Linked DNA regions of Homo sapiens: region 2 is linked to region 1. The links come from fine-mapping of genetic effects on gene expression. A gene starts in region 1. The other region holds a variant in brackets. All regions are shown on one strand. Distances are from middle to middle.

What was found.
Region 2: its variant is fine-mapped to the expression of FAM20B in T cells (TOPMed, PIP 0.98). The same link has a PIP of 0.9 or more in skeletal muscle.

The regions. Positions count from the first base shown.
Region 1 is chr1:179,018,824-179,034,845 of GRCh38, forward strand. FAM20B (FAM20B glycosaminoglycan xylosylkinase) reads left to right here and starts at 7,071. Exons shown (of 8, transcript NM_014864.4): 1 at 7,071-7,275. RefSeq lists silencers at 6,888-7,077, 7,118-7,857, 10,551-10,845 and an enhancer at 9,907-10,782.
Region 2 is chr1:179,063,109-179,079,130 of GRCh38, forward strand. FAM20B (FAM20B glycosaminoglycan xylosylkinase) reads left to right here. Exons shown (of 8, transcript NM_014864.4): 5 at 819-990; 6 at 1,197-1,388; 7 at 3,692-3,751; 8 at 8,805-13,459. The coding sequence ends at 9,036. Among named protein-coding and RNA genes, the nearest start is that of TOR3A, 11 kb to the right of the region's middle. The variant T/C (reference allele first, on the strand shown) is at 9,984.

The DNA of each region.
Region 1 (16,022 bases):
TTGGCTCACGTGAATATGGAGGTTGAGAAGTCCCACAATCTGCTGTCTGCAAGCCGAGGACCCAGGAAAGCTGGTCGTATAACCTGAGAGCCAGAGGGCCGATGGTATAGATTGCAGTCCAGATCTGAAGGCCTGAGAAGCAGGGGTAGCAACGGCAGGGGAAGATCCATATCCCAGCTAAAGTAGTCAGAGATCACATATTCAACCTTCTTCTACATTTTTGTTCTGTTTATACCCTGAACAGATTGGATGCAGTCCACGCACAGTGGGGAGGGCCATCTGCTTGACTCAGTTCACCAATTCAAATGCTAATCTTTTCCAGAAACACCCTAACAGATATATCTAGAAATAATATTTATCTGGGCATCCCATGGCCCAGTCAAGTTGACACATAAAATTAACTGTTGCCATAATCCAGTGGGGAGAAAATGGTGCCTGAACATGAGCAGTGGTTGGGTGGCTGGAAGGAAGGAGATGGATTGAGAACTCTCTAGCAGCCACAGTTGGCAGAACTTGGTGCTAATCAGAGGTGGGGGTGAGAAAAATGAGTCTAAGACAACTGATGATTTTGGTTGGATGACTGGTGGTCACATTAAGTGAGACCCTTTCTTTCTTTCTGGTTTTTTTTTTTGTTTGTTTGTTTCTTTTTTTTTTTTGAGATGGAGTTTTGCTCTTGTTGCCCAGGCTGGAGTGCAATGGCACGATCTTGGCTCACCGCAACCTCTCACTCCTGGGTTCAAGTGATTCTCCTGCCTCAGCCTCCCGAGTACCTGGGATTACAGGCATGTGCCACCATGCCCAGCTAATTTTGGATTTTTAGTAGAGATGGGGTTTCTCCATGTTGGTCAGGCTGGTCTCAAACTCCCGACCTCAGGTGATTTGCCCACCTCAGCCTCCCAAAGTGCCGAGATTACAGGTGTGGGCCACTGCGCCTGGCCGAGACCCTTTCTTGTGCATTGCCATGGTGAAAATACCAGCCTGGTATTACCATTTCTTTCAAAGCGTTGCTAACATCTCTGAAAATCCTAGCACACTCCCTTCAGTGGTCCCCTGTACTCCCTTGCCTGAGGGATCTCCCTGCCTACATGCCATGCCTCCTTATTTCACCCATGGGCCCCAGAGGGGTACAGCAGCCATCAGTGAGGTACTGGTTCTTTCTCCCTGGGCTTATAGTCCCACTGTGTTGAGTACCTTGTCTTCCTCTGTTCGGGTCACCTCCCTGTGCCACAAACATCTACCTTCCAGGAAAGGATCACAAACTGTAGGACTGAAGACTAGATTTCAACCCATAGATGTCTATGATTTGGCCTGCTCTGTGTATGTGTGTGTATACACACACACACACACACACACACACACACACACACACACACTTAAATGTAAATGCCTTTGAAGGAGGGACCAGGCTCTCTGGTATGTCATGTTCCCTCAACCCTTCTGGTTGCCTCACCTTTGGCCTGCTTTGCTCATTTCCCTTCATGCCTGACAGCCACAGGCTTCTGTATGTCTAAGCCCCACTGGAAGGAAAGATGTAGGGGGTCTGGTCCACCAAGGGGCAGCATCTGGACCAACAGGGCACTGGCTTTCTTCCTTGTCACATCTTTCTCATCCTTGCTCACAGCAGGATGAGCGCTTGGAGAGATGGCTGGCTTCCTACAGAAGGTTACCAAAAGACCAAGCTATCTTCCCTTGAAAATAAAACCCAATTGCCTGTATATTAGATTGAACTATATAAAATTGTCCATGTTCAACTTTGCCCTATAAAGATGACAATTTCACATGATTCAACCTATTAACATGGCCCTGGCTTAGTCGCTAGTAGGACAATGGTTCTCAGCCTTGGTTGCAAATTAGAATAAACTGGAGGTTTTAAAAAATACCCTTGCTAGGACCTCACCACAAGACTATTAAATTCAAATTTTTGCAGATGGGGGCAGGCATAGAGCTATTTAAAAAGCTCCTCTGGGCTGGGCACAATGGCTCAAGCCTGTAATCCCAGCACTTTGGGAGGCCAAGGCAGGAGGATCGCTTGAAGTCAGGAGTTTGAGGACAGCCTGGCCACTGTGGCAAAACCCCATCTCTACTAAAAATACAAAAATCAGCCAGGCATGGTGGCGCACGCCTGTAGTCACAGCTACTCGGGAGGCTGAGGCAGGAGAATCGCTTGAACTCAGGAGGCAGAGTTTGCAGTGAGCTGAGATTGCACCTCTGCACTCCAGCCTGGGCGACAGAGGGAGACTTTGTCTCAAAAAGAAAAAAAAGCTCCCCTACAGCCAGACTGATAATTGTCCTCTAGCACATCCCTCGGCCAGCCATGAGAAAGGCTCAAAGAGCCTTCTGCTGAACTCCTTACCACATTATCCATCGATGGTAGAAGCTTCCTGGCTTTCCAAGCAGGGTCTCAAAGAGAAGTCTGAGGAACCCAGAACTTCCATGTGACTGCAATTACTTCATGCATTGAATTGAGTCAATAAAAAACAGCTTCCATCACAACAAAAAAAAAATGTGTGTTAAATACCAATATGCCTGTGGTACCATCCTAGGCATATTACAAAAGTATTACCTTGTGGGAATTAGCAATCTGGAATTTGCAATTCTCTCTCCACCCAATCCCTTGAAAAGCCATATGTGGCATTAGAGAAATTCATAACAAACTGGAAAATGTCAAAGATGTGGCCCTGGACATTTACTGAAGCGTATATGCCACAACAAAGTGTACACTTTGGGGTAGTTAAACAAATTTCTATAGCCATACATGACAGTTAAGTGATACACAGCTTTGAGAGCCATAACTCCTCTGCATTTCTTACTAACTCTAGAAATCTAACATATCCATTAATGTATTTTTCTTTTTGCTTTTACTGTGCAGATTTAAAGAACAAAATAAATAGGTAAATATATTTTCAGAATAAAAAAGAAAACATCCCGTATTACTTTTGGGGGTGATGAAAATGTTCTAAAATTAGATTATGTTAGTGGTTGCTCAACTCTGTAAATATACTAAAAGGCACTGAGTATATTTTAAGCAAGTGAGTTTTGTGGTATGTATATCTCAATAAAGCTTTTCTTAAAAATAATATTGCTAGAGTGAAAAAATAACCGAAATATTCCCACCACTTTCAGAATCCACAGCCCGAATGTCTCAGCAGAGAAGCTGGGTGTGCTGTGTATGTATGTAGCTTATGATGCTGTCCCTGGGACGTGAGTTGTTTGCTCAGATGGCATTGACAGGGGTGCCACGTGATGGGGTAAGTGGGCAGTCCGTTGCTATAAGCAAGAGGCGGGCTGGGAGTAGCTCTGCAGATCTGGTGGCAAAATGAAAGAAAGGAGTTTTCCCTGTTAGGAAAGAAATGCAGAAGCAGCTGTCCACAGACAGCCCAATGCAGAGAACAAACCTGCCTGGGAAGCAGCTGAGGCAGGGCACATGCTCCTGGAAGGAAACAGAGAGATATGTGTGCTCCTTTACTCGCTAGCCTTTCCCGTCACCCTCTCCCCAGGCTCCTGGCACCTTGGAACAGCGTGAGCTTTCCTAGGGCTCCTCTCGACTTGCTTGATGTAGAATTAATTTAATTAGTTTCAGAGGGATCCATCATGGTGGCTGTGTTGCCTAGGTTAAAAGAAACTCTGTGTGTGTGTGTGCGCGCGCGCGTGTATGCATATATATTTTGCCTTCGTGTATGCAAAAGCACCTTGAGACAATATCCTCCTTCTAACTTGGGATTGCTGGACTGTTATTGGAGTCCTAGGGCTTGACAAATTGGCAGAGACTTGGAAATTCTGAAACAGTTTAAGGAAAATGCTTACAATGATGAAGGAACCAAGAAATAAGTCTCTGGGGCTCAATTCCCTGCTCTGTAGTACATGTTCTCAAACCTTCCTTTCAAGCATTGCATGGCTACCATGGGCCATGTGCAGTGTTAGTGCTACAGAAGACGCAGATGTCAATACAACCCGGGGAACGGGGTCAGACAGATCCCCAAAGACTTCAATACACCCCACCGCAAGACAGTTACAAATAAAGTGCTGGGTCTCAGAAGCCAAGGAAAGCATGTGCAGTTGTTGGGAAGGCTATGAAAGGCTTCATGAACAAGCAGCACTGAGAGCTGTATAACATTTTTACAGGTGGGAGTGAGGTGGATTTCCTGGAGGAAGAATCAATGTGATCACAACCATGAGGGCAGGGAAAGGACAGCAAGTGAGCCCCTTAGGTTGGAGGATAAGGAATTAGCAGAAAATGGTCCTGAAAAGGTGACTATGGCAGTAAATGCCAAGCACAGGTGTCCCTATTGAATTCCGCAGGCCACGGACAAGCCTCTGGTGGGTTCCACACTGGGGCTAATTCCAAGATTGGGGTTCCACATTGGGGCTAATATCCATCCTTCTGCTAAGGATGCCTACCACCCTTGGCTGGAGGGGGACAGCCAAATTCCTGCTCTGGTTTTAACTCAGTGAGCTTCAACACATCAATGTGGAGAAGGTACTTCGTATGAGGCACTCTACAAGTGGGAATAAAGATGAAATAGTGTATGTCTTTAAAAATCCTTGCAGTTTGGGAACAAGGAAGAAGGGCAAAGAGGAGATTAGACAACGACATGTAGAACCATACATCGTATGAGTGGTAAAAGGAGCATCACAAGAGTCTTGACAAAGTGCTCAGACCTCCTTAATTGGGGTTCCTGCCAGCTTCTCAAGAATGGGAACCAGGCTTTCTTCATCTCTGCATGGTCTGGTAGCTCAGTGCCTGGCACTTGGTAGACATTCATTAAATGAATGAATGTATGCATCAGTGAATGAATGAATAAACAAACAAATGAACAATTCTCCTGTCACGCAGGATCTGCTGAAGATGGCGGCTGTAAGTTCACAGAGCACTGCCTAACTTTGGTTCATATTGTTCCTCTCTTCTCCTACCTGTATTTTGCTCACCTCAATACCAGCCCACACTGTTTTCCTGGACTGTGATTCTTTCAGTGATCACAGAGTCTGTGCTGCATAATTTAAGTGTCCCTATTCCTTGCAGCTGCTTCCTGTGTGCTAGTCATGTAAACGCCCTTCTTAAATGATTGCATCCCTCACAATACTTAGAATATATTGACTGTTGATTGGTTGGAAAATAATCCCGTACAGGCGGAGGGGGCAGAAACTGACATCATGGAGTGTCAGGCACGGTGCTGGTGCTATGCATACACTCAACAAGGGCCTGGGTAATGCAACATGGAGAAGGGAAAACTGGGGGGCAGAACAATTTTGTCGTCTGAAAGCCTTTCACAGAGAGGCCCTGAACCCATAGCTCTCCTTCTCTGAGGACAGAAAAGGAGGAAGTGTGTCTGTCCTGCAGTATGTGGGATGGATAGATGGATGCGAAATTAAGCACTGAAGTGGGTTGCTTGGAGAGGCAATGACTGCCCCCTGCCCTCACCTGAAAATCCTTAAAGACAGAAGGGATCATCCGCCCAGGAAGCTGAGGCTGCAGGATAAGCTGGCCTTTTCCTGAACAGTGACAGTTGGAGCGTTCACCCTCACTGTCCTTGTCAGAGTTACAGGCAAGAAAGGAGAATCCTTTTGGATAAAGTGTCTTAAAGGAACTGTTGATTTACCCTTTTGCTTTATGGTCTCCTGATGTAGTGAGCAAGGTTCAGGGAGATTAGCTAACTGCAGGCAGACTGATCTTCCTGTGCAGAGAAATAAGGTAGATTCTCATTATCTTCCAGCTCATTTTCCCAAGAATTATGTATTCTCCGGCCAGAAAACGACCTCCAAACCTCCAAACCTTTTCAACTACACGCAGCAAAAAGCTAATACAATGCCTTCTGCATTTGACTGTACGTCTCCTGCAGTGATTAATGCTGCCTCCCTAACTACATTGTCCGGAGCAAGTGTCAAGCCCAATTATTTCTCTAGGATCTCCTGATAGTAAATGCTCAGCAAATATACAGACGAATAACACCTAATCATACACAATAATCTTAGAGTACTTTCCCCATACATTTCCTAACTTAATCCTTACAACAACCCTGTGAAGTTATTAACTCCCATTTTCCAGTTAAGGAAACTGATGCTCAGCAAAGTTAACTGGCACATCCAGTATCATACAGCCAGTAAGAAAGAATTCTGTTCAGTACGCCTTACTGATTAAATGAACTATGTGGCCTGAAGAAAAAGTGTCAGCTCAGTCTTTCCCCATCACGCATCTTATTCCATGGAGTAACCTGCATTATATTTCAGGGTCAGGCACACTAAGTTTGCGCTTTAGTATATGGTGAATAAATGGATGGACACAGTGGCGGCTCTGTATAAGTCAGCTGAAAGCAAACAAAGGGAAGGCAGAATCTTTCATTCACACGATTTATCCGCGCCCACTGGGTGCACTACGGTCGGGCATTGGCGACCCAGGAGCGACTGACCTGCCCTCATGGGGCTTACGGTCCTTAGCAAAAAACAGATGTAAAACAACTAATATTACAGTAAATGAATCATAATTTTGTGAGATGCTCCTGAAAGTATGTAGCAGGACGCTCCGCTCTGGTCCGAATGAAGAGCCATTTGCACTCAGTGTGGAAAGGCTAGCCTTTTTCTGGGCAAAAGAAGCGGGGGATACATTTAGATAGGCAGAAGTTCCGAGCAGAAGTCAAGGCAAATTAAAAAGGCAACAGGAGGAGGGAAAATGCTTCTCACAAACAGAACTCGACCTAGGGGACCGCAACTCTCCAGTCCTGCTGCTTGGCTGCCTACCTACCTAAGAAAAGCAGGAAAGAAAAAGAGAAGACGGGGTGGGGGATGGAGGACAAATACAGAAAAAGAAAAAAGAGCGAAGGAAGTGAGAAGTGAGAGGCCAGTTTATGTAAGCGGGCAGGGCGGCGCGGCCGGCAGGAGACCGGCGCCGGCGCCGAGGGAGTTAAGCGGACGGGCCCGGTATGGAAGAGGTTAAGGGGGGCAGTCCGGAGCGGGTCCGGTAGGGGCCGCCTACTGGGCGGGGGCGGGGCCGCGCCGAGCGAGCGCTGGGATTGGCCGTCGGGCAGGCGCTACGCTAGGACGGTACCAACAGCCGGGGGCCTCGGAGGCGGGGGGGTGGGTGTGGGACTGCCGCTCTGCGCGGCGAGAGGTGGCCTGGGAATGGCCGGGCCGGGGGTGGGCCGGAGCCGCTGTGGCGGCGGCGGCGGCTGGGGGCGGTGAGCGCGGCGTGGGGCTGCCCCTCCCCGGAGGCGGCGGGGGCGGCCGGGGCCGCGCCGCACCGCACCGCGCGGGCGGCCATGGAGCGAGCCTAGGGCCCGACAGGTGAGTGGCGCGGGGGCGGGGGAGGGCGCGCGACCCCCGCCCCCGGCGCGGCGGGCGGGAAAATGCGGACCGGCACGCGGGCGGGGCACGGTACGTAGCGCGCGCCGGGCTGGGGCCGCCTGGGGGCGGGGCGCCTCCCTGAGGGGCCGGGCACCGGGTGCCCTGAGCCGTCCCCGAGTGGCTGCGGGCGGGTCCCGGGCGAGGGCCCGAGGCTTCCTGGGAGACCCGCTCGGGCCGCGTGTCCCTGTGTGCGGTCGCGGCTGAAGGGACGCGGCCTCGGCCGCCACGTCCCTGGCCCACCTGAGGCGCGGGCCCACCTGGGGCCGCCTCAGGCTGCCAGAGGTCCTTCTAGTGACCGTCTCTCGTCCCCTTGCGCGGTCCCCAGAGGCGATTGGCCCCGGTGCCTCTCTTGTGTTCCCCGGAGCGCCCGTTGAGGCAGCCCAGGGAGCGCGCCCTCGCGGGGTCTTTGCTGGGCCCGCCTCGTGGCCGGGAAGCGCGAGTGACCTGCAGGCCGGAGGCGGAAGGCGGGGCAACCGTGCCCGGGGCCCGCGGTCTCCTGGGGTCCTGCGCCGGGCGCTCGCAGAAGGGCACAACTTAACGAATGCTGTGTTAGCCCTCAGTGGGCTGCGCTTGAGATTTCATTTCCGGGTGTGACGGCCCCGCGATTAAGAGCGGACCGATACGTTTCCCTTAATGATGAATGTGAATAGTTGTCGAGCTGCGTCCTTGATTGTGGGTTCTGATAAGAGATTCATTCTAATCTGACTTCTGTTAACCTGCCAGTCTCCGGATAAGAAGAGAAGGGGTAGAAGGATGGATTGGAGGGAAAGTAGGGGTAACAGGGCTTGGTTAGTCTTAATGGAATTATTAGTCCTTTTAAAGACCATACCATCATTGGGATGGATAAGGAGTTTCTAATTTGGGAAAATGAGAGTTGCTTGCTATTGCGACTTGGGTCTAGTGCCAGATATCAGCATCTTCCCCACCCAGCCAGCTTCCCTCTGGAGGTTTGATTTCTCACTTGGAAGGGAAGTAGGAATGTGGGGTTTTTTTTAGCCTTTAGCCTTTAAACTGTAGGACTTTATAAATCTATAATCTGGTACAAATTACTATTGCCATTTATTAGCCACGCCTATGTTTTTTGCGTTGTAAATTCTTGCAAAAATTTCACTGGCGTTGATTTCTAAAAATCTGGTTAGAGATCTCAGTGTTCTTATGTATTACAAACATTCCTTGAGTTTATGCAGGATCTTTGAGCTAAGCTTAGAGCACTTCCTCAAATATGATTCGTTATCACGACTGTCTGAGAAACTGAGGTACAAATGGTAAAGATGCTAAATTATTTGCCCAGACTCATAGCCAATCTCAGGGAGATTTAAAATCAATGTATTCTATTAATAACTTTTCTAAAGTTTGCAAAGATGTTGGACTTTGGCCTCTCGAACCGTACAATGGAATCAGTCAGCAGGAGTCCCTTTCCCATTTGAAATTACTTATCAAAGGAGAATACAAAGGCACACACAAGTATAATTCAGACTCTCAGCCTCACTCATGATAAAGTGCAGTGATAAATATGGATACAGGTAAAAGATGATCAAGACATCTTGGAGTTCACAGCGTTTCTTTTCTGTGTGGTGAAAATGTGACATTGGTATGCTCTATTCGTTTCTCTAGAACTGGTAGGACAGTAGCTATGTTTTGGTGAATGAATGGAAACTAGAAAACACATACACTGCTTTTCTTTTTGGTTCTTAAGATTAGAGAAAAAACACATCACTGCTTCTATCATCTTTATTTTTATAATCTTTTATATCATGGAAGTATTTTATGTTAAATTGATAATTCCTTGACTTTTAGTTCATTCCCTTGATTTCCATTTGTAGATTCCAGCCCTTTCACACAGCCTTAAAGTTTCTGCTTCTTATCTCTTCTGAATTTTAAATTCCTAAATGAAACTTTCTGTTCCTTCAGTTTTAGGGCAGACTTCAGCTTCCCACACTTTGTGTGTCTATCATTTCATTGGTGTAAAACCCTAAAATCATTTCATTAGTGTAAAACCCTAAAGCCAGATACTTCAGCTGTTGAATTGATAACTTTTTAAAATAGCTAACCACAGAGGTTGTCTTTTGGTGATTGCCACAATCTCATAACAGAAGCAGGAGGGCGTTCTTTGTATTCTGTAAGAATACATAAAAAGACAGTTGGTCGGGCGCGGTGGCTTATGCCTGTAATCCCAGCACTTTGGGAGGCCGAGGCAGGCGGATCACGAGGTCAAGAGATTGAGACCATCCTGGCCAACATGGTGAAACCCCGTCTCTACTAAAAATACAAAAATTAGCTGTGCATGGTGGTGCACGCCTGTAGTCCCAGCTACTCAGGAGGCTGAGGCAGGAGAATCGCTTGAACCCAGGAGGCAGAGGTTGCAGTGAGCTGAGATTGCACCACTGCACTCCAGACTGCTGACAGTGAGACTCCGTCTCAAAAAACAAACAAACAAACAACAACAACAACAGAAGGAGACTGTCTTCTGAATCTGACTCTTAGTCCTTCTGGGACTAAGTGCCAGGTGGTTTTGTGGATTGGGATGGGGAACACAGTTACAATGAGGCCCTACAGTTTGTTGTAATTGTTACAGTAATCTGTGTATCTGTGTATTTTTCTCTCTGCACCTGACAGTGCCTGTATGTAGAAGGTGCACAATAAATATTCGTCAGTTGAATGAATAAATGGAAAACAGTATGAGGGAAGGGGAAATATTCTAATGTATATACTAAATTATTTAGTTCCTCTTTTTGTCAAAAGAAAAAAAAAGCGTAGAAAATGTGTTTCGGATTACTGTTCAAAATATTCTGTAGAGGTGTGTTATTTGCTTCTGTGATTATATGGTGTTCTAAACCACCTGGAGCCTGGCAGTAGCCTGTGCAGGTTCCAGTCAAGTGCAGCTTCACAACCTTGCTCCTACAGTCTGTTCTGGCTAGGCTAATTGGGCAGTTGGATTGATAGCCAGTGTTTTTGCATTAATAGAAGAACTTAGAGCTCTTGGCAATGGCCATGTCAATAGCATTGACCTGACTGCCCTTGTCCCTTATTTTGACGGTGGAAGAGGGGAGTTATCCCTTTTTAAGAGTACTTCTCCAGCAGTTCCTTCTTCTACACCTACATATATCTTCCTGTTTTCCTTCAGCTGTCTCTGTAACCCCAAGTACTAATGAATTCTTTAACATAGGCCTGGGCTGCAGAACAGAAGCTTACTTTGCTATTGAAACCAGCTTCTGACTAACTTACAATGTCAGCATGACTGCTCGAGCTGCCTAGAAGAGAAAATAATGCAAAGATCTCACTTCTGATTTGGTCTTTCTTACCAAAAACAAAAGAAGAAATGCCTAGCTTGGGATGTAAAGAATCTACATGACAGATGGGTGCGTCTGTCATCCCAGTGTGAGATAAGAGAAAAATGTAAGCTGATGCAGAAGAGACCTTGAGCTTTGGTGTGTGTTTAAGGTCTGTACTTTCTGGCAAGATAACCCCTTTAGAGAAGAGGGTGCTAACTTGGGCACGTTATAAAGGCAGGTCAAGGAATATGAAATTATGAATGTGTAAAGAGGACAGAACCAAGTACAGAGGGAGGCAGTGAAGTCTATCATTCCATGCTCTCAAATGTTAACTTTCTGCTTTATATACATAGCAATGCCTCATTTACCTAATGTTGGGGAGTAAGGTATTATATGTGAAAATTTTATTTTAGCTATACCTTTTGTGGAAAAATTTTTACAATATATGCTTTGGTTATTATTACTAGCATACTGGCAGTAGTTGAGTGAGGCTATGAGATGATCGAAAAATGTAGTTTGTTGTCCACTGTGCTTTTTGAATTATTGAATCTACTTGAGTCGATTCAGTAGTCAGTCTTTGTCTTCTTTCAGTGGTGGAAAGCTGCTCTTTTGCTGCTGTTAGTATCCTTGCTGCCCTCTTTTAAATTTGCAGCTTCTTATCTGTGGAGTAGGAGCTTCCTGACATTGAATGTAAAACAGCTAAATTGGCTTAGTTATGTTCTACCTGCTCTTCTCCAAGTTTTAGGGTATGAACTTTGTAACCACTTATTTTTGTTGCCCAGGGACGTTTTTGTTTGTTTGTTTCTTATCGTTGGTGTAGATAGTGAACGTGTGCTCTGTATAGGTGCATTTATGTTCCTGTAGTTTTCTGTAAAAAAAAAAACAAAATAATATGGAAGTACTTACTCGTGTGGGTTCTTGTTTCAGAAAGCACTGCCAATAATACTTGAAGATCTGATTTCAGCCCTGTCTTGTATCATCCTTGGGCAGTGTGTTAGACAACCTCCTTTCTTCCTTTTAGCATTTCCAAATTGTCTTTACTCTTAATCCCAGCCGATACTAGGAACCAGGTTGGCAATAGCAGTGGCCTTGAAAGGTGGAAGCAGGATATACAGAAGGTGGCAACTTTAAATTGAGTGTATATAATTGGTATACATATTCGCTATTTCTGCATCTTTTATATACTGTATACTTGAATTCATTGTAGGACTTATTTCCCCCTGTCTCTGAAAGAGGCAGTCTTTAAACCAGAGAGTTGCCAGTTTAGAAGAAATTCTTATAACCCTAAAGGTCTTTCTCCTTTGCCCTTCTCTCCTTTTATTCCACAAACACTTATCAGATGCCTCTTACAGGCCCTGCACAGTGCTAAGTTACTTGGAAGTACAAAGCGTGAGTAAAATCTATCCCATCCTCAAAAAACACAATATATTAGAAGAGACAGATGTGCCAAAAAAAAAAAAAAATGTGTGTGTGTGTGTTTGTGTGTGTGTGAGTTCATAGTATAACAGAGGGATCATGCCTGGAGCCACCTAGCCATAATTTCAGCACAGATCTGTTTGAGGTTCTCCTGCTTCTGAGAGTGATCTCCTGTGTGGGCTGTCAGCTTGACGTACCATAGAACATAAGGCTAAAAATGCGAGGTCTATTGTTGTATAAAGTTTATGTGGTTTTCCAAGAACTGTAGTGAATTGAACACTAAAGATGGAAAGCATATGAAAAGCTGAAGGAAAATGTTATAATATTTGTAATGCCGTATTTCAACACTATACAGGAATTACCTTCTATAATCTAGCCTTAAATGGTGGTTCTGTACTGACAGTTGTGCTGTGAAATACCTGGAACTTGGGAAGTGTCATTATACCTGGCTTATTTAAAGGAAAATGCAAATTGTTACTCATTTCCACGTAGTGTCAAGATTACTGCGTGTGTTGGTTTTTTAGAACAGAACTCGCTAGCAGTATGAGCTAAAGTTTTTTTCTTTTTCATTTTTCAAGGAAGAGGGTTGCCCTAAATCAAGGTTTAAATGGGACAGGTTGCAGAGATTGATTTTTTTTCAGTTCACTTATTGAAATTATTCAGTTATTGCCTATTTCATTTTTACTTTCACATCCAGCAAGAAAGACTACCTTAATGCTTCATTAATGCCTGGTAATGGTTTTAGTTGCCTTCCTTCAGAGGGAACTTGTTAGAGAATTTCATATAAGTGATTCTGAGTTTACAGATGTAAATAAATGTTTAAATGGAAGTGAAAACAGTAAGGAAAACCTGACACTTGGACCAATTTGGATTATGTAAGAATTAGATTTTCTACACCTGTACTCTTAAGTTACTCTTAAGGCTTATCTTAAGGGCTTTAGCACATGAAAAGCTGTCATCTTTAAAACACAGAACTAATTTTCCAAACTGAAAACAGTTGTGAAAGGCATTCTATTTTAGCCTTTTTTTGTGAAGTGGGATAAGTTCATGCTTCCCATCTGTTTCAGTTACATTGAGTGTGGTAGAATTGAACTTTGTAGAGAAGGGAAACAGGTTGGCCAAATTAGTGACAGCCTCCCAGTCTTCTGCTTTGCATGACACTCACTCTGAAGATATCTATTTGCCTAGTCTTATCTACCTCTCAAATTTAGGCAAGAATTTGGCTCAGAAATACAAGACTACTAATTACTACTAAACTCTTAGTAATGCAATGTGTGGATTTGGCCCCTCACTATGTAACTGAGAAGACAACATTATGGTATATTGATTCCAATGAGGGTTTTCTTTGTCATTTTTCTCCTCTCTGGAGGTCATCTGGGTTTTTGATATGGTGATAATGACTAGCAAGTGATTACTGTGGGTCATCCAGGCACTAATCTTAGCACAACACATGTAGAGGTCTCATTCTTTTTTTTTTTTTTTTTTTTTTTTTTGAGACAGGATCTTGCTCTGTCACCCAGGCTGGAATGCAGTGGCATGATCTTGATTCACTGCAGCCTCAGCCTCCCGAGTAGCTGGCTCATTCATTTTTAACAACCCTGTGAGTTAGGTAATAGTATTCTTGTTTCATTTTTTTATATGCAGAAACTGAGACCCAGAGAGGTCAGAAGTTAAATATCTTTCCCAAGACCCACATTAGGTGGTAAAGGAAGCATCCAGGCCTAGGCATTCTGAATCCAGAGGACATGCTTTTAACCCCTCTGCTACAGAAAGCTTATATTTAAAATAAGAAGGTGAATTAAGAAGCTATTTCTTAAGTGGATAATTAGCACAGAAAAGAAGAAAAAATATCTATAGATACTGATTAATGCTATTACTTAGTATTAGTTTTTATTTTTAGTTGAAGACCCTCATGTGAAGATGAAAGGAAGAATAGCATGCTGTTGTGGCAGGCAGCAAAGCAGGAGTGGGCTGGTTTTCCCAGGGTACTCAGCATTTACTGAGATAATAAACATGTAATGCTGTTTAATATTGGAGGTTTTGACTTTCTGGACATCTTGACTGTCACACAATACTAAAAGACTTCTGAATGCTCTTAATTTTACTTATCACTGCCACTAACCATCAGTAGAGACATTTATTTCTAGGGAACGGGGTGTAAACTCATAACAGTTAATAATAATATGCACAGTGCCCTACTGTCACTGCTAGTGAAAAATCAAAAGGGCAGTATACCAGACAGCCCACGGTAAAAGCGTGTGTGTGTCTAACTTTTTTTGCACTAAAAGATGTGATTTTTGCTATTTATGTTTTGGCTGAAGTACAAAAGTTAGGCTTTATAAACCGGACATGTGTCAGTGTGTGAATGTGTGAGGTTAGCCTTGATTGCTCTGCATAAGTCTAAGTAGGGCTCTGAAGTATGCAAGTGGATTTTAGTAAATGATCCAGTTGAGAATCTATTTCTTCTTGTGGTACCTTTAAGAGACTTTGTTAATTATGTATCTTTCTAAATATATACAATGAAAACAGAAAAATATAAATGACATGTAACTTTTATAATGAGTGTATTGCTCCTAGAAGCCATTAATAATAATTTACAAATATGACCTAACAATTTATCAAACCAATTTTTATTTGCACTTAATGGTTAATTTAGTGATTACTCCCTCCCTGAGATAATTGTTTTTAGTCACGTAATTTATTTCCCTATGTCTTCTCCCCTGGTATTTTTACTATCCCCAAAAGGAGTTGATAGGAGCAGAACAGATGTGAGAATGTTGGGTTTTACAAACTACCTCAAAATAATAGTGGGTTAAGACAATGATTTGTTATTTCTTTCTTTCTTTTTCTTTTTCTTTTTTTCTTTTGAGACAGTCTTGCTCTGTCACCAGGCTGGAGTGTAGTGGCGTGATGTCGGCTCACTGCAACCTCCGCCTCCTGGGTTCAAGCGATTCTCCTGCCTCAGCCTCTCAAGTAGCTGGGACTACAGGCATGTGCCACCATGCCCAGCTAATTTTTTGTATTTTAGTAGAGATGGGGTTTCACCATGTTGGCCAGGCTGGTCTCAAACTCCCTACCTTGGGTGATCCGCCCATCTCACCTCCCAAAGTGCTGGGATTACAGGTGTGAGCCACTGCGCCCAGCCTGTTATTTCTTATAATTATATAGGTCATCTGGTCTCACGTGTTCCTGCTCAAATGGTATAGGCTGGGGTCACAACAGTGACTACATTCTGCCAGACCACAACTGGGACTGGAATGTCCTTGAAAGTGTCATCTTCATGTCTGGCACTTCACCTGGGGTGACCAGGATAGCCAAGGGTTGGCTGGACCTCTCTCCATATAGATCACTTGGCATTTGGTAGTCTTAGCTTGAGCTTCTTTACATGGTAGCTAGATCCCGTGAAAGTGGAAGCTGCCAGGTCTCTTAAGACCAGGGCCCAGAACTGGCACACAGTCATTTCCACAACATTCTATTGTCAAAACAAGTTACAAAGCCAGCCCAGATTCAAGGGGAGGAAAAACAGACTCCACCTCTTTCTCTCTCTCTCTCTCTCTTTTTTTTTAATAATGGAGACAGGGTCTCACTGTGTTACCCAGGCTGGTCTCGAATTCCTGGGCTCAGGCAGTCCTTCTGCCTCAGCCTCCCAAAGTGTTAGGATTACAGGTGTAAACCAGCATGTTTGGCCCTGACTCCACCTCTTGATAGGATAAATTGTTAGTGTCTGTCTTTGCAGACAGTCTACAAAAAATTCAAATTCAAGTCTTACCTCCTATACTCACCAAACCTTCAGAGTTTTAGTCAAACCAATAATTACCAAAGTATTTTGTTAAAGGATCCTTGTAGTTCCTACTCAGGATCAAGGGCAAAGAGATTGTGTGCATAAATATAATTCTATACCAGTTAAGAAATCCTACCCCTTTGCCTCAGATCTCTTTTGTTGTTAGTCCTCTGCATGAAGCATTCTTACTAAGCATTTCCTTTGTGGTGCTTTGCATT
Region 2 (16,022 bases), 44 kb after region 1:
TCTACTACAAATACAAAAATTAGCCAAGCATGGTGGCATGCGCCTGTAATCCTAGCTACTCAGGAGGCTGAGACGGAAGAATTGCTTGAACCTGGGAGGCAGAGGTTGCAGTGAGCCAAGATCTTGCCACTGCACTCTAGCCTGGGCGACAGAGCAAGACTCAGTCTCAAAAAAAAATAAAATAGTGAGTTTAGAGGCCAGACATGGTGGCTCATGCCTATAATCCCAGCATTTTGAGAGGCTGAAGTAAGAAGATCACTTGAGTCCAGGAGTTTGAGCCCAGCCAGGCCAACATGGCGAAACCCCATCTCTACCAGGAAAATACAAAAATTAGCTGGGCATGGAGGCATATACCTATAGTTCCAGCTACTCAGGAGGCTGAGATGGAAGGATGGCTTGAGCCCCAGAGGCAGAGGTTGCAGTGAGCTGAGATCACGCCACTGCACTCCAGCTTGGATGACAAAGCCAGACCCTGTCTCAAAACAACAACAACAACAAAAACAAAACAAACAAAAAGTGAATTTGAAGGATACTGGTGATGGTAGTTGACACCAGAGAGTGAGACTGGGTAGAAAGGACACAGGAGGCAAGGGCAACTTACTTTTGGGTGTATATCCTTTTGTACTTTTTAAATTTTTTTTACACCGTGTGCTTTTTTATTACCTATACAGGAAAATAAATGTTTGAAATATAGTAAACTCAGGGTCTTTGTTTTCACCATGCTTATTTACTTAGCTACTCTGTTCTGCATTATTTGGGAGAGAACTTGGAGTCTTCGTTATTTCCTTAAGTGTATTTGGCTCCTTTCTGTCCTTTAGGAAACAATACTTGTTTTTATGGGAAGTGCTATTACTGCCGAGAAACAGAACCAGCTTGTGCTGATGGAGACATAATGGAGGGATCTGTCACACTTTGGCTTCCAGATGTGTGGCCTCTGCAGAAGCACCGTCACCCATGGGGCAGGACTTACCGAGAAGGCAAATTGGCCAGGTAAATGCTCCTATGAGCCATTACTTAATTCTCCCCTGTGCCTAGCCAGGTGCCAACTCTGTAAAGGAGCCAGCAGTTCTGTCCAAGAGTGAAAAGAACTGTGGAGTCAGGGGCAAACCGGTAGGTAGGAACTCTGTCTTCTCTTTGTGTGTAACAGTGCCAGGTACAGTGTTGTCACTCAGTGCTGTGATGCTGCTTGTCTCCAGGTGGGAGTATGATGAGAGCTACTGTGATGCTGTGAAGAAAACGTCCCCTTATGACTCTGGCCCGCGCCTCTTGGACATCATTGACACAGCTGTCTTTGATTACCTGATTGGCAATGCTGACCGCCATCACTATGAGAGCTTTCAAGATGATGAAGGCGCTAGTATGCTCATCCTTCTTGATAATGCCAAAAGGTGAGACCAGCAGGACTGTCCTTGTCAGGGAGGGGTTTCTGTATATGAAAGAAGGGCATTTTCCAGAGCATCCTGGAGAATATCCAGAATGCAATTGATAGGCAACATCCTTCTTTTTTCCACTTGGAGTCTTTGCTATTGGTACCTGTCCTTCTCTCCACTCTCAGGGATCTCAGTACTTCAAAAAATGGAAAAGTGGTTCTTCCAAGGAGTCTAAGACTCTATGAGCCTCTTCTCAGACAACTGGAAAACCAGGGTTATTCATTTGTTACTACCTACATCGTTCTTTCTTGGCTATGATATTTGGTGTTTAGAAGCTTGAGAAATACAGATGTAATAGAGTGTGGAATTTGTCGTTAAATTTATTCTATCCAAAGGTTCCTGCAATTAAAAAATTAATTTATTTGGTAGGATGTTTTGCTATTTTTGTGTTTGTCTAGGTCCATACTTTTGCTGTCATGGGAAGAAGAGCTGTTGCCTAGTGTGGATTTTATATATAACAACAAGTTACTTTTATCTTGAATAAAAAATGTTTATTCATTTTGAATAAATAGAATGTCCTTATTTTTTTAGGCCTGAGCTATTTGGAGAGCACATTGTATTTCCATTTCATATTCTGCATTCTCTGTGGTGGCCGGTTTAGTGCCACACTTTTTTTTTTTAAGTTTTTTTGAGACGGAGTTTTGCTCTGTTGCCCAGGCTGGAGTGCAGTGGCACAATCTCAGCTCACTGCAACTTCTGTCTCCTGGGTTCAAGCGATTCTCCACCCTCAGCCTCCTGAGTAGCTGGGACTACAGGCACTCGCTAATTTTGTATTTTTAGTAGAGACAGGGTTTCGCCATTTTGGCCAGGCTGGTCTTGAACTCCTGACCTCAAGTGCTCTGCTTGCCTCGACCTCTCAAAGTGCTGGGATTACAGGTGTAGTGCCACACTTTTAGTTGCATTTAATAAATATTTACTAAATAGAACGCTTCCTTGGAGTACAGAATTTTCCAGGCCCTAGGTCACTACTGTTAACATTGGTTGTTGGAAATAAGCTAAGACATGGCTCCTCAGCAAAGAGTGCTTGGGCAGCATTTGCTAATGATGCCACCATCTTATACTGAACACCAGGCGCCTCATGCTTTGTGAAAGATGGTGATGGCCACAGAAAATGAAAAACCAGCAAACACTGCCTCTCCCTCTACCCCATTACAGCAAAGCACATAGCACTCATCCTGTGATACACATGATACTTGATATTTGGTGTATATCAAAATAGTTGCTTTGTCCACTCGGGCCGCTATAACAAAATCCCTTAGACTGGGTAATTCATAAGCATCAGAAATGTATTGCTTACAGTTTTGGAGGCTGGGAACTCTAAGATGAAGGTGCCAGCAGATTCAGTGTCTGGTGAGGGCCTGTTTCTCAGATGGTGCCTTCTATGTGTCCTCATATGGCAGAAGAGGTAAACACGCTCCCTCTGGCCTCATTTATAAGGGCACTAATCCCGTTCATGTGGGCTCTTCCCTCGTAACTTAATCATCTCCCAAAGGCCCTACTTCTTAATACTGTTGGACTGTTGTACCAGGGATTACGAATTTGAGGGGGACACAAACATTCAGACCATAGCAGTTGCCTTTGCCTTGAATTACTGGAGGACCTACACTGTACTAAGGGCTACCAGACTCTAGCTATTAAGGTGAGCCTCTGGAAAGATTGAAAGGTTGACAGTTTTCCAGAATCAGTTCTCCTTTTCTAACTCTGAATTGCTGCTAAGGTAATTTTTGCATCTGCTGTGAATCAGTTTCCTCAGCCTGTGTGAACAGTTTTTCCAATTTGAATCTGTACTTATACTTACTTGTAGGGAATAGGATATTGCTAATTTGGGAGTAGAATAAGTGTGACTTCTTTTTACAAGTAATGGTCATCTGCTTGTTTGTGGGAATCTAATATAAATGGCTTTTATTTCTCTCTGGTCCTTAAAACCTTTGCAGGCTTAGGGGTCTTCAAGTTCTCCCTTTGGTCTGTGAACTCCGCACTGTGTTTACCATAGTTATGCTCCAGCACCTTGTGATATCTTGGCAGGAAAATGTCCCTTGTAAATGAGTATATTTGTTGTCAGATATTTTAGTACAGGCTGTTAGGGATCCTGTGTCTAATTGGTCATGCCCCGCTTGTTTTCAATTTAAGTGATTTGAGCTGCTGGAGCGTGAAATTATCTAGGATCACATTTGAGTTTCATATAGAATTTGCTATTGCTTTGATGCTAAGAAGAGAACAGTACTTCCACCTAATTCACTAAGTTTTAATTTAATTTTCAGCTTTGGGAACCCCTCGCTGGATGAAAGAAGCATTCTTGCCCCTCTCTATCAGTGTTGCATGTAAGTTATGCACAGCAAATACATGTGCCTGCATTGCCTTCTTTTCCAGGCTCAGGTAACAGTACATCCATTTTCTTGGCCCTCAAACTTTCTGATACCTGAGCAGTGCTTTTCATACTTTTCCAACCTAGAACCTCTGGACATCCTGAAATGGGATATCAGGGAAAGGTGAAGGCAGATAACCCAAAGCTCAGAATTCATCTCAAATTTTGTATGAATAGAAGATTGTATGTATACAGTAATACATGTTTGGTTTAATAGCAGAATATAATCACCCACACTCCCCACCCCACTGCCAAAAAAAAAAAAAGGAGTAAAATCTGTATGCCTGGTTACTACACCTGGTTACCTTGTGGTTTTAACTCCTCTCACTCACCCATCACATACCACCTGGGGTTTACATATTTCAGTTTGAAATTGTCTAAACCAAAAGTAACTTTTTCCATAAATAATAATTTATTTTGGCCAGGCACAGTGGCTCACTCCTGTAATCCCAGCAATTTGGGAGGCCAAGGTGGGTGGATCACCTGAGGTCAGGAGTTCGAGACCAGCCTGGCCAACATGGCGAAACCCCGTCTCTATTAATAATACAAAAATGAGCCGGGCATGGTGGCAGGCACCAGTATTCCAGCTACTTAGGAGGTTGAGACAGGAGAATTGCTTGAACCTGGAAGGCAGAGGTTGCAGTGAGCCGAGATTGTGCCATTGCACTCCATTCTGGGTGACAGAGTGAGACTCTGTCTCAAAAAAAATAAATAATAAATAATAATTGGTTTTTTTAAAAAAACTCTGTATTAGAGAACAGAGAAATTGAAAAATGAGTCAAGAAAATGAGATAAAGTCTAAGCTCTAAGAAGCTTCTTTTCATCATTCCTGAAATAATTTTATTTTACTATTTTATTTTTTATTTTATTATTTTTTTGAGACAGGGTCTGCATCTGTCACCCAGGTAGGAGTGTGGTGGTGCGATCTCAGCTCACCGAAATCTCTGCCTTTCGGGTTTAAGCAATTCTTGTGCCTCAGCCTCCCGAGTAGCTGGGACTACAGGCACCTGCCACCAAACCCAGCTAATTTTTGTATTTGCAGTAGAGACGGGTTTCACTATGTTGGCCAGGCTGGTGTCAAACTATTGACTTCAAGTGATCCGCCTGCCTCAGCCTCCCAAAGTGCTAGGATTACAGGCGTGAGCCACCGCGCCCGACCATCCTGGTGTAATTTTAGAGCACGCACATCAAGAATTAGCTGGGATCCACCTTGCTTGGCTACACAGAAAAACAAGTTCAAGAGCACCATTTAATACTGGTCAGCTCCCAGCAACATCATATCACATAAGACTGCCATAGCAACTGGTCTCTTAATCTTCTTTCTTTTTTTAAATGACAACAAAATTCTGTAGAAAGTAACAGTTTACCCAGGCTGTCCTTCATTGTCTTTATTAATGATAGGAAGCAGTGATATATACAATCAAGAATTGTGTGTTTGTCTTTGAAGATGTTTTTGTGGTAGTAGTTTTATCAGTCTGGTTCAATCAGGAGATAGCAAAGACATAGTGTGATAAACAGAGGTGTTTAATATAAAGAATTTTTTTTTTTTGGAGATGGAGTCTTGCTCTGTCACCCAGGCTAGAGTACAGTGGCGCGATCTCGGCTCACTGCAGCCTCCACCTCCCATGTTCAAGTGATTCTCCTGCGTCAGCCTCCCAAGTAGTTGGGATTACAGGCGCCCCTCACTGCATCTGGTTAATTTTTGTATTTTTAGTAGAGACGGGGTTTCACCATATTGGCCAGGCTGGTCTAGAACTCCTGACCTTGTGATCTGCCTGCCTCGGCCTCCCAAACTACTGGCATTACAGGCGTGAGCCACTGCGCCCGACCCAATATAAAGAATTATTAAATTCCAATAACAGGAGTGACTATAAAAGGGCTGAGGGAGAGTACCCAAGGAAGGACAAACTTGGAAGGGGATCCCCTCCCAATGACTGGAGTTTGGACTTCAGTGGAGAAGGTTTAGCTCAGCCCACCAGATAGCAGAGAAGTTTGCTAGTTTGCAGGTGCTGAGCAAGCCAGAAGCAACTCTCCAGAGTGCAGGTGGGGTGTACATTCAAGCCACAGCTGGTGTCATGACATGCAGAAGGAGAGAGAGAATCCAGTAGAAACCTTCTGTGCTGCAAGTGAGGCACACACGTGGGCCTTCAGAGGGAATTGGGGCCAGGGTGAGCAGATGGCCTTCAAAGCTCTGGTTTCCATGTTGAGAGGGCCTCGGGAGAGTTATCCCCAGGCCAGGCTAAGGCTTCAGGTCACCAAGGACCCACACCTTCTGGGAGTGTGGCTAGACAGGTCTTCAGTGGATGACCTCTCTGCCTCCCCAACACCACCATTGACCCACAGAAGCATTTGGAGAGCCCCTTCACCCTGCAGTGTCCCCTTTGCGCCCTCTAGTGAGAATGCTTTAGGGGAAAGATGCTTAAAGGAATCCCATCCGTCGTAGCAGAGCACATTTTGTTTTTGTTTTTGTTTTGTTTTGTTTTTTGAGATGGAGTCTCGCTCTGTCGCCCAGGCTGGAGTGTAGTGGCACGATCTCGGCTCACTGCAACCGCTGTCTCCCGGGTTCAGGCGATTCTCCTGCCTCAGCCTTCTGAGTAGCTGGGATTACAGGCACCTGCCACCACGCCCAGCTAATTTTTTGTATTTTTAGTAGAGATAGGGTTTCAACATGTTGGTGGGGCTGGTCTCGAACTCCTGACCTCAGGTGATCCGTCCGCCTTGGCCTCCCAAAGTGCTGGGATTACAGGCATGAGCCACCGTGCCTGGCCAGCAGAGCATATTTTGAAGAGTGAATTTGGAGCTGAGAGGAAGTAACATAATAACTTAGTCTCACAGAGGAAGCTCTGATGCTCTGGGCATTTGTAATATATTTAAGAATAAAAATAACTGTACTCCGTCTGTGCCTGTTTGTCCCTTCCATGCATGCTTTATGCAGCAGTCTTTCTTACCTTTTAAATTGCTGCACAACAGGCTGCCTTTTACAGAATCAGACATTTCTGCATACCCAGTAATTCCTCCTTTACCCACAGAGAGCTAAGAACTTTTCTTCTCAGATTTTAAATAAAAGATATGCTATAGTTGGTGTCTTAGTTCGTTTTGTGCTGCTGTAACAGGATACCACAGACTGGGTAATTTATTTTATTTTATTTTATCTTATTTTGAGATGGAGTCTCGCTCTGTTGCCCAGGCTGGAGTGCAGTGGCGCGATCTTGGCTCACTGCAACCTCCGCCTCCCAGGTTCAAGTGATTCTCATGTCTCAGCCTCCCAAGTAGCTGGGATTACAGGCATGTACCACCATGCCCGGGTAATTTTTGTATTTTTAGGAGAGATGGGGTTTCACCATGTTGCCTAGGCTGGTCTCGAACTCCTGACCTCAAGTGATCTGACCCCTTGGGCCTCCCAGAGTGCTGGGATTACAGGCATGAGCCACCATACCTGGCCAGACTGTGTAATTTATAATGAACAGAAATTTATTGGTTCACAGTTCTGGAGGCTAGAACGTTAAATATCAAGGTGCCAGCATCTGACAAGGGACTTATTGCTGTGTCATCATGTCACATGGCAGAAGGCAAAAGGGCAAAGAGAGAGGGCAACAAGGGGCTGAACTCGCCTTTTTTTTTTTTTTTTTTTTTTTTTTTGAGATGGAGTCTTGCTCTTTTGCCCAGGCTGGAGTGCAGTGGCACAATCTTGGCTCACTGCAACCTCCACCTCCCGGGTTCAAGTGATTCTTGTGCCTCAGCCTCCCAAGTAGCTGGGATTACAGGCACCTGCCACCACGCCCAGCTAATTTTTGTATTTTTAGTAGAGACGGGGTTTTACCATGTTGGCCAGCCTGGTCTTGAACTCCCAACCTGAGGGCCCACCTCGGCCTCCCAAAGTGTTGGGATTACAGATGTGAGCCACCGCTCCTGGCCTTGAACTTGCCTTTTAATAACAGCATTAGTTCCACCCATGAGGGCAGAGCACTCATGGCCTAACGACCTCTTAAAAGACTCTACCTTGATACTGTTACAATGGCAATTTCAACATGTATTTTGTAGGGGACAGACATTCAAATGGTAGCAGTTGGTGAAATAAGGCAGATAGGTATCCTTAAAATAATTTTTTCCGCCAGGCGCAGTGGCTCACGCCTGTAATCCCAGCACTTTGGGAGGCCGAGGCGGGCGGATCACGAGGTCAGGAGATCAAGACCATCCTGGCTAACACGGTGAAAACCCGTCTCTACTAAAAAATACAAAAAAATTAGCCGGGCGTGGTGGCGGGTGCCTGTAGTCCCAGCTACTCAGGAGGCTGAGGCAGGAGAATGGCGTGAACCCGGGAGGCAGAGCTTGCAGTGAGCCGAGATCACACCACTGCACTCCAGCCTGGGCGACAGAGCAAGACTCTGTCTCAAAAAAAAAATAATAATAATAATTTTTTCCCAGTAGAAATTATTTTAGACTTCAGAAACACATGAGGAAGAAGGAAGTTTATAGTACCCATTAACGTCTAAGGATTAACGTCTAAGGATCCTCTTGTTAACACTGTAGTGTACTTCATTCCAATCCATGTATGTGTATTTTGTTTTCCTACAGATTTGAAGTGAAACAGGTTTTTCCTCCAACCTCTTCCCCCCACCCAGCATCATATCATAGGCATTTTCCCATTCCACTAAATTTTCAAAATTGTTTTTAACAGCTGCATGGTATTCCTTTCAATGGATGAACCATAATTTAACTATTTCCCAGTCGTTAGACATTCAGATTGTTCAACATTTTTCCTGTTATAAACAGCACTGCAGTGAACATGTGTGTAAATCTCTGTATATATCTCTGATTAGTTACACAGAAACAATATCAAAACATAGTAATGTGGCTTACTCATTATGTAGGGGTAATTCTAAAGCAAAAATTATTTAGTTAAAGGATTTTACCTAATTATTTTTTCACTTTTGTCTGCCTAGCAGGCTTTCAACTCCGTTTGATAATGAGAAGTTTTATGTACCTTGTTCTATAACTTTTTCTCCCAGCATTCGGGTGTCCACCTGGAACAGACTGAACTACCTAAAGAATGGTGTGCTAAAGTCTGCCTTAAAATCTGCCATGGCCCATGACCCCATCTCCCCAGTGCTCTCTGATCCTCATCTGGACGCCGTGGACCAGCGGCTCCTGAGTGTCCTGGCCACCGTGAAGCAGTGCACCGACCAGTTTGGGATGGACACAGTACTGGTGGAAGACAGGATGCCTCTCTCACACTTGTAATTCTCGACACAAAATAAGTGAAACTTCTTTTTACAAAGATAGAGAAACAGCACAATCAATTCCAAATGGTATGAGATGGATTGGAAGTGGCCAGCAGCAAGTTCTGGTGACGGGACAGAGTGGCCTTGGATGTCTTTGGTATTTTCTGTAGTAGAAACTAAAGCAAAGACCACAAGTTTCAGAGCATGGAGACATTCCTGCTGAATCGCCTTCTCACCTCCTCGGCAATTGCTCATTCTAGGGTTGGGCATCATAGTTGGTCAGTCTTAATTCCCATGCCAAAGGACAAACAGGTGTGACATTTGGATAGATGAATACTGGGATTGGCTCTGGAGCATGTGTTTTGAGTTGAACCTTGCAGTCCTTTCTCTACGCCCGTGGATTTTGTGGAAACACTTTGCAATCTCTTTGTCTTTTTTTTTTTTACCAGAACTAGTTACATTGGAATGCTTACTGTCCTACAGAGTGGCAGCAAATAAAACCTTGCATTCCATCAAGCCAAAATAGCACACTCTGTTAGAGGAGATACATGTTTAAGATAGAATTGGAGGGAAGGACAAAAACAGAAAAATGTTTGGGCTTTTAAGCCATTGGGTAGTATTGTTTTGATGATCTTAGAGGAGGGAAGAAGAGAGAGAGACCCAATGGTAGAACCAGAATCAGGGAGATGACTGAACTACTGAAAAACAGGTTCCCTTGTATTTAGGATCTTAAGGTGTATAAAAAGCAAACATGACTTTGCACCTAAGTAAATTCTGCATTCTCATAGTTGTGTCCCAATTAACCAAAAAGTTGTCTCTAGAGAAAATACTATTACAATCTAAGCATGATTCTCTGTGGAGACTAATTTTTTCCCCTTTTGCCAAAAGCAGTCCTTCCCAAATTAACAAAGCAAACTGAAATAATACCTTGAATAACAGGTTGCCTGTGGTCTCTGTCATCCTCGT[T/C]TCTCTTCTGAAATGAATTTCCACCTCTGCCTTTAAGGCATTTTTGTCACTGAAGCTGCTGTTCCCAAGAGATCGGCAACCTTTTTGTCCCTTTCTCATAAGAAAGGGACACTCCTACAGGTGAGAGTGTATACCTTACTCTCTCAGATAAGTGGCTGGACTTATCTTGTGATTTGGGGCCATGGAAGATTGGAAACAAAGATTTTAAGCCTTCTTCTTTTTTTCTTTTTTCTTTTTTTTTTGAGACCAAGTCTCACTCTGTTGCCCAGGCTGGAGTGCAGTGGCACGATCTTGGCTTACTGCAACCTCCGTCTCCCAGGTTCAAGCGATTCTCTTGCCTCAGCCTCCAGAGTAGCTGGGATTACAGGCGCCCGCCATCGTGCCCAGCTAATTTTTATATTTTTAGTGGAGACAGGGTTTCGGGTTTCACCATGTTGGCCAGGTTGATCTTGGACTCCTGACCCCAGGTGATCCACCTGCCTCAGCCTTCCAAAGTGCTGGGATTACAGGCATGAGCCACCGTGGCCGGCCAAGATTTTAAGCCTTCTGAGCCTTGAAATTGAGGAGGTTAAAAGGAAGAGCCTTAAGATTTTGATTTATGTCAAATCCTAATTCTATCATTCAGTCTTGTTTGGAGTTCTGAACCCATGATGTTGTATTATGCTTCTTTCTCCTCTTAGCACTCTCAAATTTCAGGTTTGTAAAACACAGTTTTTGTTTTGTGTTCTGGCAAAGTGATCTCAACATGTAAGTAGTTGCAGTAAAACACAGGGGCAAAGGAAGACAGGCCTGATGTGCCCACTCATCTATGGACTCAGAGCTGTGTGCTTTGCTCCTGCATCTTGTTGAGGTGCTGTTCCAGCTTTGCATTTCTGTCAAGTAGAGGCGAATATATAAACAGTGTGGTTGAATACATTTAATGCCAGCCATTGGAAACTAGTTTTAGGCAACCACTCTCAAAAACAGCTTTAGAATTTATGCCCAGTTTTCTTGCATTGAAAGATAACTGAGTAATAACCTGTAACTATTTTTAAATGGCATGAAATTAGGAAACTTTTGTACATTTTATATACATTTTGAGATGAACAGAACAATGGGCTGAGTTATAAAAAGCGTGTATTGAATTTAAGAAGACAGACTAGCACAAAACACAGAATTCGTGTTAACCAAAGGAGGCATTGATTTCAGTTTTAAGGCTACTCAGTGTTGTGTGTCCAGGGAAATTCACAGCTCAGTATGAGAATACCTTGGTTAGTGCTCACCCACAAGCTTCCAGGAGCCAGCTGGGAGGAGACAATAGGAAGAGATGTCATCTCTGCTCTCCCTGTAAATGTTAGTTGAACTAAGTTATGGATTTGTGGTCTTTCAAATACATGACGCCTTTAGTATGCCACACTGAAATGAATAAGAAGTCTTCTGAAACTGGGAACTTCATAACATTGAAGGCAGAAGATTCTGCTAAGGAAAAAAGCAGGCAGGAAAGAAAATGTCTCATCCTTTCTTGAAAGCATTTGCAGAAAATATATCATTTCATTTTATTCCCATCTGTTTTCAAACTCGTGATCTTAAAAGGCATTCTGATGATAAATTTAGAATTTTCATCTATAAAATTTAGAACTCTAATCCATAAAGTTAGAATTGAGCTAATAGAGTGGTATGACATGGCACTAAAAATATAAATTTTTGTTGTAAGTCAGGATTGGAGTAAGCTGGAAAAGTATGTTTAGGCAAATCTTGGAGAAAACCAACCATAAACTTACAGCTCTAAAATTCAGAAAGCCCTAAAATTTCAAACACTGTTTGAAAGAAGAGGTGGGGGCCGGGTGCCGTGGCTCATGCCTGTCATCCCAGCATTTGGGAGGCTGAGGCAGGCAGATCACCTGAGGCCAGGAGTTCGAGACCAGCCTGGCTGGCTAGCATGGTGAGACCGTCTCTACTAAAAATGCAAAAATTAACAGGGCACGGTGGCATGCGCCTGTAGTCCCAGCTACTCGGGAGGCTGAGGCAGGAGAATCACTTGAATCCAGGAGGCGAAGGTTGCAGTGAGCTGAGATTGTGCTGCTGCACTCCAGCCTGGGAGACAGAGCGAGACTCTGTCTTAAAAAAAAAAAAAGGAGGTGAATTTTTTTTTAAGTTTTGTAACACTGTCCTACTTTATTTATTAGAATCTAAGGCTGTTACAATCAAGTCGTTGCAGGGTTTGGATCAGCTGTAAGTTAGGTATGCCTACCAAACATCCAAAGGTAGACGTGGAGACATTTTAATACTACAAAACTAGGAAAATCAGAACTCATGGCCATTTCCTGCCCTCCTCCAACTTGTTAAAACATGTTTATTCTAAAGTTCGAATGGATAAATTTGAGTATAAAGGTTTTGTTATAAAACTGTTCTTTAGTGTAAGGCTGCATTGTGGGTTTGGGGGAAATGTAAATAATTTTCTGTGTAAAACAAATTCATAGGATCTGATTTGCTCAGAGTATTATTCAAGAATGTATTAATAAGGCATTGCCCCCTGTTTGCACTCAGGGTTAATATGTCAAATGAAATTTAAGAAGGAAATGGAAGAATTCAGGTACATTAATTGCATATTATTTTGGGAAAGATGAGTCCTATACGTGGCAATTTTTCAATGTCATCTGAAGCCAGCATTATCTTCCAAAGAAATCGATCTTTTTTTTCTAAAAAAAAAAAATGCTTTTGCCTTCCCTTCCCTTCCCATCCGCCATATTTCTTCAGCCTTTCTTCTCGATCACCCGTGTATTCTTTGACCAGTAAATGACCACACCTCAATGATGGTAAAACAGCATCATCAGTAAGCTATCTTATATGCCTCATCCTGTGAGTTTGAGCTTCAGGAAACATGAGTAAAAGTATATGTAATGTATATAGTCGTATATGTATTCTAGCAAGAAAAACATATTTATTTTGACAAAGGGGAACACTGACTTTCTGAAGGATTCAGAAAGAACCTTAGTGAAAGGTTCTCAGTCTCTGAGAGTGGACCCTAATTAACATAAAGACCATTCATCAGCGAATAACTACTGAGCAACTCTAGTGTGCCAGCACAGGCCAGACATACTAGTGAGCCAGGCACATCTGGCCTTGGGAAACTCATCCTACAGGGGAAGGCCAGTTTTTTTCCCTTCAATTCCTCAAGTCTGGGTGGTGACAAGGTAGGGGCTAGGTACTGGACTACCACAGGTTTTTAGGAACTAAGGTGTTTCTCATAAACACAAAATGTTGGGTGAAACTGGGAACAACTACTCAGAAGCTCATTTATTTGCTTAAATGGAAAGTGTGGGAGCCACTACCCTCTCTTTTGATCTGCCAAGGATTTCCTCTCAGAGCTGTTGCACAGACAGAGATTGTACTTGGTAAGATACCAAACAAGACAGATATGGATCTAAATTTCTAATGTGTTCTATGGGTTTCAATTCTGAAAAAAGAAAATGAATAAAGATTTTAATAAATATTGATATCTGATCTTTTCCTCTTCTTTCCCCCTTCAGGATATTTCCAGTGGTTCCTATTTCAGTTCCCTTCCTGTTAGGGGACAGAAGAAGATTACATCTTTTGTGACCACTTAAACTTCCACAGGGATAGTTTCACAGTACCTGGTGGATTAGACCTTTAAATTTCCTCACCAGTCTTCAAACGGTTCATACTAGATTGTAACTATACCAAAATTTTCTATGGGATCATTGTTAGGTGCTTTTTGTATATTTAATAGTTAACTCCATTTTTGCAGCTTCCTTAGAGGTAAAGAATTATGAATCCTGAAGAACTTGTCAGCACACTACAAAAAAGGCAGGAAGAGAAGGCCAGTTGCCCTAGTAGTACTTCTTAGGACACCTAGATTTTTAACTTTTGAAATAGAATCCAGCATCATAAACCTCAACCAGGTAACTGAGCAAAGCTCTTAAGATTTTTATTGGGCCAGGCACCATGGCTCATGTCTGTAATCCCGGCACTTTGGGAGGCCAAGGCCCGTGGGTCACCTGAGGTCGGGAGTTTGAGACCAGCCTGGCCAACATGGTGAAACCCCTTCTCTACTAAAAATACAAAATTAGCCAGCTTGGTGCATGCCTGTAATCCCAGCTACTCTGGGGAGGCTGAGGCAGGAGAATCGCTTGAACCCGGGAGGCGGAGAGCTGGGATTGTGCCATTGCACTCCAGCCTGGGCAACAAGAGTGAAACTCAGTCTCAAAAAAAGAAAAAAAAAAAATAGCTGGGTGTGGTGGCAGGCGCCTGTAATCCCGGCTACTCGGAGGCTGAGGCAGGAAAATTGCTTGAACCCAGCAGGCGGAGGTTGCAATGAGCCGAGATCGTGCCATTGCACTCCAGCCTGGGCAACGAGCGAAACTCTGTCTCAAAAAACAAAACAAAACTATTTTATTTGCAGCATATTTGTGCTAGTTTTTGTCATTTGTACATGAATACATGTGGGAGGCTAGTAGAGCCTGGTCTGTGTATCTCACTGACTCACCACATACAAATTCTTTTCCAGGCTAGAGTTCAGGATTCATTTGCTTCTCAAGCATATCAGAACGACTGGTATTAGAGTTTGAAAAAGGTAGCTGGGAGTAGGGAGGGCGGGGCTCTGTTACTGGGTAATTTTACCTAGTATGTTTGCTTATTAGACTGATTTTTAGCAGTCGTCATTTTGTAAAATAGATAGGAATGGTCATAGCCACTGGATTTCCATGGGTAGGGTTTTGTAAGGTAAGTTGCAGTATAAGCCCCAAGGAATAATGGTATTAAATCACAATTTGTGAGATATTTGGTCTGTCATCAGTAGATCTGTGGGCCATTGTGCTGCAAGCTGTGGTATACCATTGAGATGATAGTGACTGTCTTTTCCCTCAAAGAGCCTGCAGTCTAGACCTGGCAGAAAAAAAAAAAAAAAAACTGCTTGTGAGGCACCAAGTCCCTCAGGAATTATATAAATTAATTGCAGTGAGAATAAGAAACGGGAGAGGATCATGGAGGTGGGGATTGGGAGGGATTGGGTTAGGCAGTACCTACATTGAAAAAGTGGAGATTGATCCAGGCTTGACGAGAGGTGTGTATAGAACCCCTGACTCCGGAAATGCAGAACTATTTGCTTAGTGGATACAGGGCCTTCTGGGCCTGTATTTTCAGTATCTGGGTCACCAGAAATATCGCTTCAGGGGTTTCTCATTGTTCTAGGAAATGTTTGTGTGCCCTGTCTCTTGAGGACATTCTCAGTCCACCTCAAGTGCTGTGTAGATGTTAAAGGAACATAGATGAGCTGGGAAACATTCCTGTAATGTTTCTCATGCAGGGTTATTTAAATATGGAGACTTGCGTTTGTTTTGTTTTTGAGACCAAATCTCACTGCAGTGCCCAGGCTGGAGTGCAATGGCGCGATCTTAGCTCACTGCAACCTCCGCTTCCCAGGTTCAAGCAATTCGCCTGCCTCAGCCTCCCGAGTAGCCAGGACTACAGGCGCATGCCACCACGCCCGGCTAATTTTTGTATTTTTAGTAGAGACGGGGTTTCTCCATATTGGCCGGGCTGATTGGTCTCAAACACTTGACCTCAAGTGATCCACCTGCCTTGGCCTCCCAAAGTGCTGGGATTACAGGCGTGAGCCACCGTCCCAGGCCGAGACTTGCTTTTGACCCAGTGTTTCCAAGGCAGATGGTTCTGATTGCCTTCAGTGGGGTTGGGAAGATGTCTGTTGTAAAGCTAGGTCATACTCAGATGACATCAATAAAGGTGTTGTGTGCCAATTTTGCCTTAGGCTTTTTTTTTTTTTTTTGGATTGACAGTCTTGCTTTGACGCAGGCTGGAGTACAATGGCACAATCATCGCTCATTGGCAGCCTCGAACTCCTGAGCTCAAGTGATCCTCCTCCCTCAGCCTCTCAAGTAGCTAGGATTATAGGCGCGCACCACCACACGCAGCTTATTTTTTATTTTTATTTTTGGTAGAGACAAGGGGTCTAGCCTTATTGCCCAGGCTGGTCTGAAACTCTGGCTTCAAGCCACCCTCCTGCCTCAGCCTCCCAAAGTG